2 separate regions of the Homo sapiens genome follow, and region 2 is linked to region 1. Evidence: fine-mapped expression QTL. Tissue or cell type: lung. Region 1 holds a variant in brackets; the other region holds the start of a gene. All regions are shown on one strand. Distances are from middle to middle.

Region 1 (5,198 bases):
AAAAAATACAAAAAATCAGTCGGGTGTGGTGGAGTGTGCCGGTAGTCCTAGCTTCCCAGCTACTCAGGAGGCTGCACCGGGTGGATCACTTGAGCCCAGGAAGCAGAGGTTGCAGTGAGCCATAACTGCGCCACTGCACTCCAGCCTGGGCAACAGAGTAAGACCCTGTCTAAAAATAAATACATTTTAAAAAGGGAAGGAAATTCTGACATGGTGCAACATAAATGAACCTTGAAGACATTCTGCTAAGTGAAATAAGCCAGTCACAAAAGGACAAATACTGCATGATTCCCTTAGGAATGTAAATGAGACACCTCGAGTAGTCAAATTCATAGAGACAGAAAGCAGAATGGTGCTTGCCAGGGGTGGGGGGAGGGGGAATGGGGAGTTAGTGTTTGATGGACAGTTTCAGTTTTACATGATGATAGAATTCTGGAGATGGATGGTGGTGATAATTACACAGCCATGGATGTGAATATACTGCCACTGAATTTACACTTAAGTGGTTAAAATGGTAAATTTTATGTTATGAATGTTACCACAATTTTAAAATATTAATCAAGAAAACAAAGTATTGGCCAGGTGTGGTGGCTCATGCCTGTAATCCCAGCACTCTGGGAGGTCGAGGTGGGCAGATCACGAGGTCCAGAGATCGAGACCATCCTGGCTAACGCGGTGAAACCCAGTCTCTGCTATAAAAAATACAAAAAATTAGCCAGGCGTGGTGGCAAGCGCCTGTAGTCCCAGCTACTTGGGAGGCTGAGGTAGGAGAATGGTGTGAACCCAGGAGGCGGAGCTTGCAGTGAGCTGAGATCGCACACTGCAAGCCAGCCTGGGCGACAGAGTGAGACTGCGACACACACACACACACACACACACACACACACACACACCCAAAGTATTTCGGCCAGGTGCGGTGGCTCATGCCTGTAATCCCAGCACTTTGGGAGGCTGAGGTGGGTGGATCACCTGAGGTAAGGAGTTTGAGACCAGACTGACAAATATGGTGAAACCCTGTCTCTACTAAAAATACAAAAATTAGCCTGGCTTAGTGGCGGGCAACTGTAATCCTAGCTACTCAGGAGGCTGAGACAGGAGAATTGCTTGAACCCGGGAGGTGGAGGTTGCAATGAGTCAAGATCGAGCCACTGCACTCCAGCCTGGGCGACACAGTGAGACTGTCTTGACTAACTAAATAAGATATTTAGTTGTTTGTTACTTGGGGGACCACAGAGGAAGTTGCTGGTGATTCCCCCACGTTATTTTCCAAAATCTTAGTAAAGTGCCACGGAGAACCACAGTGGGAAGAAGTCGGCCCAGGCTCCATCTGGTGCACGGGGCAGAGGCATCCCTCAGTCACAGGAGGCATCCCTCCCGAGGCTCCTCGACCCCAAAGACTATTTTCAGGAACCCTTTGTAACATGGCTCTTATTTTTATACATCAATGTTTTCCTAAAATGGAAGCCAAAGGCACAGCATCAGATCTAACCAAACCACTGACCTTTTTAGGGTCATCACATGTGCCAATTTCACCTACTTCTCATATCTTCCTATTTTCAAAGCTCCCCTCACCCTCAAGGCATAGTCTGGCAGTGGCGGCTCAGCACAGCAAGGATTATGCTATAGGCTCTGCAGGGTGCAGGCCTGCGCCCAATCGCCAGCCTCACCATTTCTCAACTGGCCAGTTTGCAACTTCCGCAGGTGATCTCAGCTCTCCACGTGCCCACCTCTTCACCTGTAATATGGCCACTAAGGCAGCATCTTATTGGGTTACTAGGCCCCCCTGGAGCACTCAGCCTGGCCCAGCCAATCAGCTGCCTTCACCTCCTCTAGACCTCCGGGCTTTGCTCAGAGCCTGGCAGTGCCTCAGAGACACCCCCTGAATGTGTCCGGAATATAACACTTTACTATGAGAACTCAGCCTATGCCCTTCCTGGGGGATTGCAGGGAGCAAAGCCAGGTGTTATGACTTTCCAGATGATATGGAACCCAAAGACGGGCTTCTGCTGAGGCCTTGGTGTACCCTCAGTGCTCCATGATGACACCCACCCTGAGGGCCAGGAAGGCTCCAGTGCTGGGTGAGAAGTCACCTACCTTGATGATGACGCGCTGGTCTGACTGGTCCTCCAGGATGCTGTCCGTGGGGTAGGACTCGATCTGCTGTCTGATGGCAGAGGCGATGGCTGGCACAAACGTCAGCGGGTTCAAATCCAGATCGTCACAGAGGATTTCTGAAAACATCTCAGGCGTCATCAACTTCTCTGAAATCAGGAGAGGGAAGGGATGCCAAGAGATTGCACCATGCTTGGGCATGGACCGGCCTCCCTCACCCCTTCTTCTTTGAAGCCAAACATCTCCGGATGCAGGAGAGGACAACCAGGGCACTGGGGGTGGCCTTCCTGGAAACTGGGAGTGGAAGGAGGAAGCACATGACTAGCAGGCCCCCAGCCCTCATCCTGCACAGACCTCCTGCTCCATGCCCTGGGGGTGGTCATGGCCATAAACACTTCCCTCATTCCACTCATAGCTGGGTGGGCGCATGAGATTATCCCAACTAATGAGATGATCCAGGCGAGGCCAGCAAAGGCACATCAAAGCTTGCGTGCCATCTCTCTACTCCCCTCTGTGCTGAACTGGTGGCAGACGTGATGGCACAGAGGCTGGCCCAATACCAGGCCTCATGTGAGCAAAACACACTGTGCCAAGCCACAGCGATTTCCAGGCCTGTGACTGCAGTAGCAGCAGCAGGGCCTCAACAAGGTCACAAGCGTGGAGGTCCCTACAGATCCCGGATCCTGGAAAAGGAATTGTACCAGATGGGAGCTCACAGGGACCATCTGTGGCCAGCCAGACCTCAGCAAGGTCCTCTCAGTCAACATTCTCTCCCTGCTCCACCCAGACCGTACTGACAAGACGCCTTGCAGGAATAAGCTGAAAAAGCCAAGAAAAATT[G/C]CCTCAGAGCAGACAGTAGGATTCCATCATCAAGAAGCAGGTCGGCCTAACAGACCACAGCCCCACTATCTCCTCCCTGCCCTAAAGACACGCTGGAGACCAGCATCCTAACAGCCTGCGGGGCAGCAACAGCAGGAACCTCAGGTGCACGGGGTAAACACCCAGTGAATACACTGCCCAGAGCATTTTAAAATTTTTAAGTAATTGTAGATTCATGTACAGATGCAAGAAACAACACAGAGAAATTCCATGCACACTGCGCCCAGTTTCCTCCAAAAAAGACAAGATAGAGGACTGTATCTGTATCCAGTGATTCATCCAGATTGTCACTTCCTTTTACTGCCAAGTGACATTCTGTGGTACGAAGGGGCCTCACTTTAACTATTCACTCACTGAAGGCTATCTAGATCATTTCCAGTTTCCCGCTATTATAAATAAAGCTGCTATGAACATCCACGTGTAGGCTATTGTATAAACATGTCTTCATTTCTCCAGGATAAATGCTCAAGGTACACTGGTTGCATGTTTAGTTTTTTGTTTGTTTTGAGACGGAGTCTCGCTCTGTCGCCCAGGATGGAGTGCAGTGGCGCTATATCGGCTCACTGCAAGCTCCGCCTCCCGGGTTCACGCCATTCTCCTGCTTCAGCCTCCCGAGTAGCTGGGACTACAAGCAGCCACCACCACGCCCAGCTAATTTTTTGTATTTTTAGAAGAGACAGGGTTTCACCATGTTAACCAGGATGGTCTCGATCTCCTGACCTCGTGATCCGCCCGCCTCGGCCTCCCAAAGTGCTGGGATTACAGGTGTGAGCCACCACGCCTGGCCGCATGTTTAGTTTTTAACAGAAATTGCCACACTGTTTTCTAGGGCAGTTTTCCAGCCACTTTACATTCCCATCAGCAGCTTGTGAGTGACCCAGTTCCTCCACATCCTCGCCAGCATCTGATGCTGTCACCACTTTTTAAAGATGTGGAATAACAGTGTAATTTTAATCTGCATTTCCCTAAGGCTAACAATGTGGAAAAGCTTTTCAATGTTTATTTGCCACCTATATAACTTCTTTAGTGAAATTTCTCTTCCTGTCTTTTGCCTTTTTTTTTTTTTTTTGAGACGGAGTTTTGCTCTTGTTGCCCAGGCTGGAGCGCAACGGCGTGATCTTGGCTCACAGCAACCTCGGCCTCCTGGGTTCAAGCAATTCTCCTGACTCAGCCTCCCAAGTAGCTGGAATTACAGGCATGCGCCACCATGCCCGGCTAATTTTGTATTTTTAGTAGAGACGAGGTTTCTCCACGTTGGTCAAGCTGGTCTCAAACTCCTGACCTCAGGTGATCCGCCCACCTCAGCCTCCCAAAGTGCTGGGATTACAGGCGTGAGCCACTGTGCCCAGCCTTTTTTGTTGTTGTTGCTTTTTTGGGACAGAGTTTCACTCTTGTTGCCCAGGATGGATTGCAACAGCGTGATCTCGGCTCACAGCAACCTCTGCCTTCCAGGTTCAAGCGATTCTCCTGCCTCACCCGCCCGAGTAGCTGGGGTTACAGGCATGCGCCACCACGCCCAGCTAATTGTGTATTTTTAGTAGAGACGAGGTTTCTCCATCTTGGTCAGGCTGGTCTCGAACTCGTGATCTCAGGTGATCTGCCCACCTCAGCCTCCCGAAGTGCTAGGATTACAGACGTAAGCCACTGTGCCAGCCTACTTGCCTATGATTGTCTAATTGCTCCAGTGCCATTTTGTTGAATGAGCTGTCTTTCCTCCATTGAATCACATTTGCATCTTTGTAAAAATCAGGAGGGCACGTTTGTGTGGGTCTGTTTCTGGATTCTCAATTCTGTTCCATCACGGTATGTCACTCCACCAATACCACACAGCCTTGATTATCGTAGCTATATAGTAAGCCTTGAGATTGGGTAGAATGATTACTCCCACTTTACTGTTTTTCAAAATTGCTGGCCGGGTGTGGTGGCTCATGCCTGTAATCCCAGCACTTTGGGAGGCTGAGACAGGCGGACTGCCTGAGCTCAGGAGTTTGAGACCAACCTGGCCAACATGGTAATACCCTGTCTCTACTAAAAATACAAAAATTAGCCAGGCATGGTGGCGGGCACCTGTAATCCCACCTACTCGGGAGACTAAGGCAGGAGAAACGCTTGAAACCGGAAGGTGGAGGTTACAGTGAGCAGAGATCATGCCACTGCACTCCAGCCTGGGCAAAAGAGCAAAACTCCATCTCAAAAAAAAATAATAA
Region 2 (5,129 bases), 29 kb after region 1:
ACCTTGCAGGCCCTGCAGGGCTCTGAGTCTCCTAGATGCCCCCCAAAGCCCCTTCAGAACTTAGGAAACTGGGCTTGCCTTCCTGGCTTTCCTCTGAACCAGCCTTCACCCTCTTGGGACCCAGGTTTCCTGAATATAAAATCAAGGTGCTGGACTTGGGGATCTGTTAGGGTCCTCAAAGCTCCATGACTCCGGCTTGGTAAATACAGCTGTCTGTTAATGGCAGAACAGTGACACACACTCTTAGTAAATGCAGATGCCTTCCCAAGACAGCTCCACAGATGGCGCATGGAGGCACTGGGTATGTTGCTATGGCTGGCCCACCTCTCTGAATACAGTGCCTGTTTTCCACAGGGCAGTGGGCTGAGACCGTCCATCCACTACTATCACTGGAGCTACTGAATTTCAATAGAGCTCTGACCTTGAACTCTTCCCTAAACTCCGAAGGTCTGATGATTAAGTCAGGCCCAAAAGAACAAACTGCCTCTCCAACTGAGTCTCTTACAGCCTGGGTCTCAGGAAGATTATTCTTACTGGGAGGCCCAGGAGTCAAGGGGCTGAAAGACAAGACTGTAATTAGCTTTCTAGAAACTAAAATGTGTTTTGGGGAAGATCTTGGAGACCATCTAGTCTAAGCATCACATTATACACATGAGAAACACGACAGCAAGGCAGAGCAGGGCTGGAACCAGGCCTCCCAAGGTTCTTCCCACTTGGCCACGCACAGCTTCTCAATTTGCTCCAACTAATAAATGAAAGCTTTCTTTTGAAGTGTCACCTACTTAGAGCCAAACTGATTACTTTTACACCCATTAGATCAGGTAAACAACTCGCCTAGTATCACAGGCTGAAATTTGACACCTTTTGCATTCTGCAGTTAGGCAGGTGCCTACTGGCCAATGAGGACCATTCTGAACTGTGGCAGATGGACAGGCACTGGCTCTACCTCCCCAGCACTGGCATCTTTGAACAGTTGTAATTTAAGTGACAACGTGAAAATTTTATTGAATCCTATATTTTTTGTTTTATAAAAATTAGTGGAGGCCAGGCACAGTGGCTCACGCCTATAATCGAGCACTTTGGGAGGCCGAGGCGGGCAGATCACTTGAGCTCACAAGTTTAAGACCAGCCTGGACAATATGGTAAAACCCCATCTTTACTAAAAATATAAAAATTAGCCGGGTGTGGTGGTGTGTGCGTGTAGTCCCAGCTACTTGGGAGACTGAGGTGGGAGGACGGCTTGAGCCTGGGAGGCGGAGGTTGCAGTGAGCCGAGATTACACCACTACACTCCAGCCTGGGTGATAGAGTCAAACCTCGTCCAGAAAAAAAAAATGGTGGAAAATGCTAACACTAAAGTTCTGATGCTATTGACCTTAGTCTCATCCATGGGACTCAGTGTGACCATCTTGAGGCTTCATTCATTCATGCTATGCTCAATTGTGAAGGATAAAACCCACAAGTTTAAAAAGTATGAATGCGCTGAGTGTGAGTGCAGTAGCTCACACCTGTCATTCCAGCACTTTGAGAGGCTGAGGTGCAAGGATCACTTGAGCCCAGGAGTTCAAGACCAGCCTGGGCAACATGGCAAAACCCTGTCTCTACAAAAAATACAAAAATTAGTCGGGCACGGTGGTGCACACCTGTAGTCCCAGGTACTTGGGAGGCTGAGGCAGGAGGATCGCTTGAGCCCAGGAGGTCAAGGCTGCAGTGAGCCGAGATCACACCACTGCACAAAGTGAGATCTTTTTTCAAAAATAAAAGAAAATAAAGTACGAATAAAATGCTGGAATATGATACTAAAAACTGCTATAAGGAGAAGAAACTCTTGGCATTTCATGATAGCTTTAATTCTCCAGGATTGGCACTTACTTCCTTACATGAGATTCTACTGCTTGACATTTGTACATCTGAACTGTATATCCATAATTTTTTTAAAAAGGTAACATATACTAGCTGGGGACTGCCTTTGGAGCAAAAAAGGCTAGTTTGAGACAATCTGTAAAAACCTAATATATGGCCGGGTGTGGTGGCTCATGCCTGTAATCCTAGCACTTTGGGAGACCCAGACGGGCAGACTGCTTGAGCCCAGGAGTTGGAGACCTGCCTGCGCAACATAGCCAGACCCTGTCTCTATAAAAAACAAAAAACAAGAACCTAATAGACTTGGAACAAACACCCATTCAAAGGCCAGTAGAGTTTTCCTGAAGTCAGTCATCCAGTTGATGCAACAAAATGCAGCCACTCTAGTTAAGGGTTAAACATCCTTAGGCTCTTTCCCCTGTAATAATTCAGAATCAGTTCACAGATATGGAAAGTGTCAATCGCTTCAGAACTGCTGAAAGATCTAGCTTAGGCATGGGGCCCTTATTCACCCAAAAGCAAACATCTTCCTCCAATCTGTTTCTTCACCGGTAAACAAAGGTCAAAAGACCTCCACTGCTCACCTAAGAGGCAACAAACACAATGGGGATGAGCCCTCACTAAGTCCAGGGTTTCCAGCCTGCCATTTGAGGTTCCCACAAGTAGCAATACGGGGAGGGGTGCACGTGAAATTTACGACATCTAAAAAGGGTCAAAGGCAGCAGTGCAGTCCCCCAAGCGTCGCAGGGGCTAACTCAATATCCCGTTTCTTTGCGTCTGACTGGAAACCAACCCAGCGCGGAACCACTGGGGCCCCTCGCGGCGCCAAAATCTTGGCAGCACTGAAGGCGGCGGACCTCGGCGAAATAAGTAAGGAAATCCCAGGTCGATGAGGGGGCGGGGGCCACACCCGACACGCCCACTAGGCCACGCCCCACAGCCCCGAGCGCGCGCGCGCGCGCCCGCCCGCCCCGATGAATGGAGACGCGCGCTCTCGGCGCATGGGCCCGCCCCGGGGCTCCCGCGGGGCCGAGCCCGGGGAGGGCGAGAACGCGCCCCGGGCTACCTCGGAGCCGATCATGTAGAACTCGCCGTCGTCCTCCAGCTGGAACTTCACGGGCTTCTGCCCGAAGGTCTTGCTCAGCGCCATCATCATCATTGCGGCGGCAGAGGCGGGCGGCCGGAGCCGGGCTGCGAGGGATCAGGAGGGCTGGGGCGGGGCCGGGGCGTGCTGGGCCGAGGGAAACCGAAGCCGGAAGGCGAAATGCGGACCGGGCCGGGTACTGGCGCCTCAGCCGGGCTCCTCAGCCGCCGCCGCCGCCGCAGACGACGACCAGGCCGCCCTCAGTGCGCAGGCGCTGGCGTTGACGCTGACGCGCGCGCCGCCGCTCAAACAAAAGGCCGGGCGCGCCTCCGCGGACCCCTTAAAGGAGCCACGACTAATTTCTCTTTCTCCCAGGCTGCCTCCCAAGTCGTGGTGTAGAGGACTTCTCACGGACAAAAATAGCCAATGAGGTCCTGACTCAAGCAGTGGCTTTCCCAGTCTTACAGCCAGGACTGGAACTGAGCCCAGGGGAAAAGCAACGAAGTGAGGCCTGAAGGAGGAGGACCTAGTATCTGGAAGCCTGGGTGGTCTGGGCATGCTTTGGGACCCCAATCTCGTGCCTTAGCTTCCCCACCCCTAAAACGCAGTGCAGCTGAGCAGATAGGCAGGCCCCTAGGAAGAGATATCCCAGTTCCGGGCCTACGGCTGTCCCTGCAGCTGTGGAGGTGGGCAAAATGACAACAGCGGATGAGGCTTGGCAATGTTCAAAGGCCCAGGTGGTATTTGGTTTGGCTGGTGCATCAGATGAGCGTTGGAAGGGAGAGACACCTTCCACCTTCTCCATTCCTCTCTTAGCCTACACTCTGCTTAACCGAGCCCTGCAGTGGGGAGTGAAACCAGGCAGCCCAGCCCTGTGGCTCTGCCTCTTGGCTCTTACAGCGCGAAGCTAGTGAAACTAATGAAAGTCTGAAAGCAATCATGATTGAATAATGCAGGGAGTAAAACAGTGGCCCACTACTGATGATTTCACACCGTTCAATCTAATGAAATTGCAGCTGTGGCTGGGCTCAGCGGCTCATGCCTGTAATCCCAACTCTTTTTTTTTTTTTTGAGGCTGGAGTCTCCTGCCTCAGCCTCCCAAGTAGCTGGGACTACAGGCACCCGCCACCACGCCCAGCTAATTTTTTGTATTTTTAGTAGAGACAGGGTTTCACCATGTTAGCCAGGATGGTCTCGATCTCCTGACCTCGTGATCCGCCCCCCTCGGCCTCCCAAAGTGCTGGGATTACAGGTGTGAGCCACTGCGCCCGGCCTTGTAATCCCAACTCTTTAGGAGGCCAAGGCAGGGAGGATCACTTGAAGCCAGGAGTTTGAGACCAGACTGGACAAGACAGCAAGACCCTGTCTCTACAAAAATTCTAAAATAAATAAGCTGGGTGTGGCATGGCGGTGTGCACCTGTAGCCCCAGCTACTTGGGAAGTGGAGAGGGGAAGATCCCTTGAGCCCAGGAGTTCAAGGTTATAGTGAGCTGATTGCACCACTGCACTGCAGCCTGGGCAACAAAGGGAGACCCTGCCTCTCTTAAAAAAAAAAAAAATGCAACTATGCTATTACGAAGACACACATGGGGCTGGAAGGTAGGGCAAGGAGACACTGGAGAGTTGGGAAGGGCAGTGACTGAAGTTGCTTTGTTCTGTATCCTCACAGTGGTGGGAAACCAAAGTACAGTCATCCCTCAGTATCCATGGGAATTGGTTCCAGGACCCCCTGCAGATAATAAAGTCCACAGATGCTCAAGTCCATTATATAAAATGGTGTCATACTTGCATATAACCTACACACACTTTCCTGTATACCTTAAATCATCTCTAGATTCCTTATACTACCTAATACAATGCAAATGTTATATAAATAGTTGTTATACTATTGTTTAGGGAACAATGATAGGGAAAAAAGTCCGTACATGTTCAGTACAGAGGTAACCATCCCTTATTTATTTATTTATTTATTTATTTATTTACTTATTTTATTGAGACAGAGTCTTGCTCTGTCGTCCAGGCTGGAGTGCAGTGGCATGATCTGGGCTCACTGCAAGCACCGCCTCCTGGGTTCACGCCATTCTCCTGCCTCAGCCTTCCGAGTAGCTGGGACTACAGGCGCCCGCCACCACGCCTGGCTAATTTTTTGTATTTTTAGTAGAGACGGGGTTTCATGGTGTTAG

Evidence for each region. PIP is the estimated chance that this variant, and not a neighbour inherited with it, causes the effect.
Region 2: it holds the start of SMARCB1, and the variant in region 1 is fine-mapped to the expression of SMARCB1 in lung (TOPMed, PIP 0.99). The same link has a PIP of 0.9 or more in blood mononuclear cells.

What each region holds. Positions count from the first base shown.
Region 1 is chr22:23,813,833-23,819,030 of GRCh38, reverse strand. SMARCB1 (SWI/SNF related BAF chromatin remodeling complex subunit B1) reads right to left here. Exons shown (of 9, transcript NM_003073.5): 6 at 2,095-2,261. Among named protein-coding and RNA genes, the nearest start is that of DERL3, 23 kb to the left of the region's middle. RefSeq lists enhancers at 2,098-2,599, 2,600-3,101. The variant G/C (reference allele first, on the strand shown) is at 2,953.
Region 2 is chr22:23,785,062-23,790,190 of GRCh38, reverse strand. It overlaps SMARCB1 (SWI/SNF related BAF chromatin remodeling complex subunit B1), which reads right to left and starts at 3,225. Exons shown (of 9, transcript NM_003073.5): 1 at 2,929-3,225. The coding sequence starts at 3,021.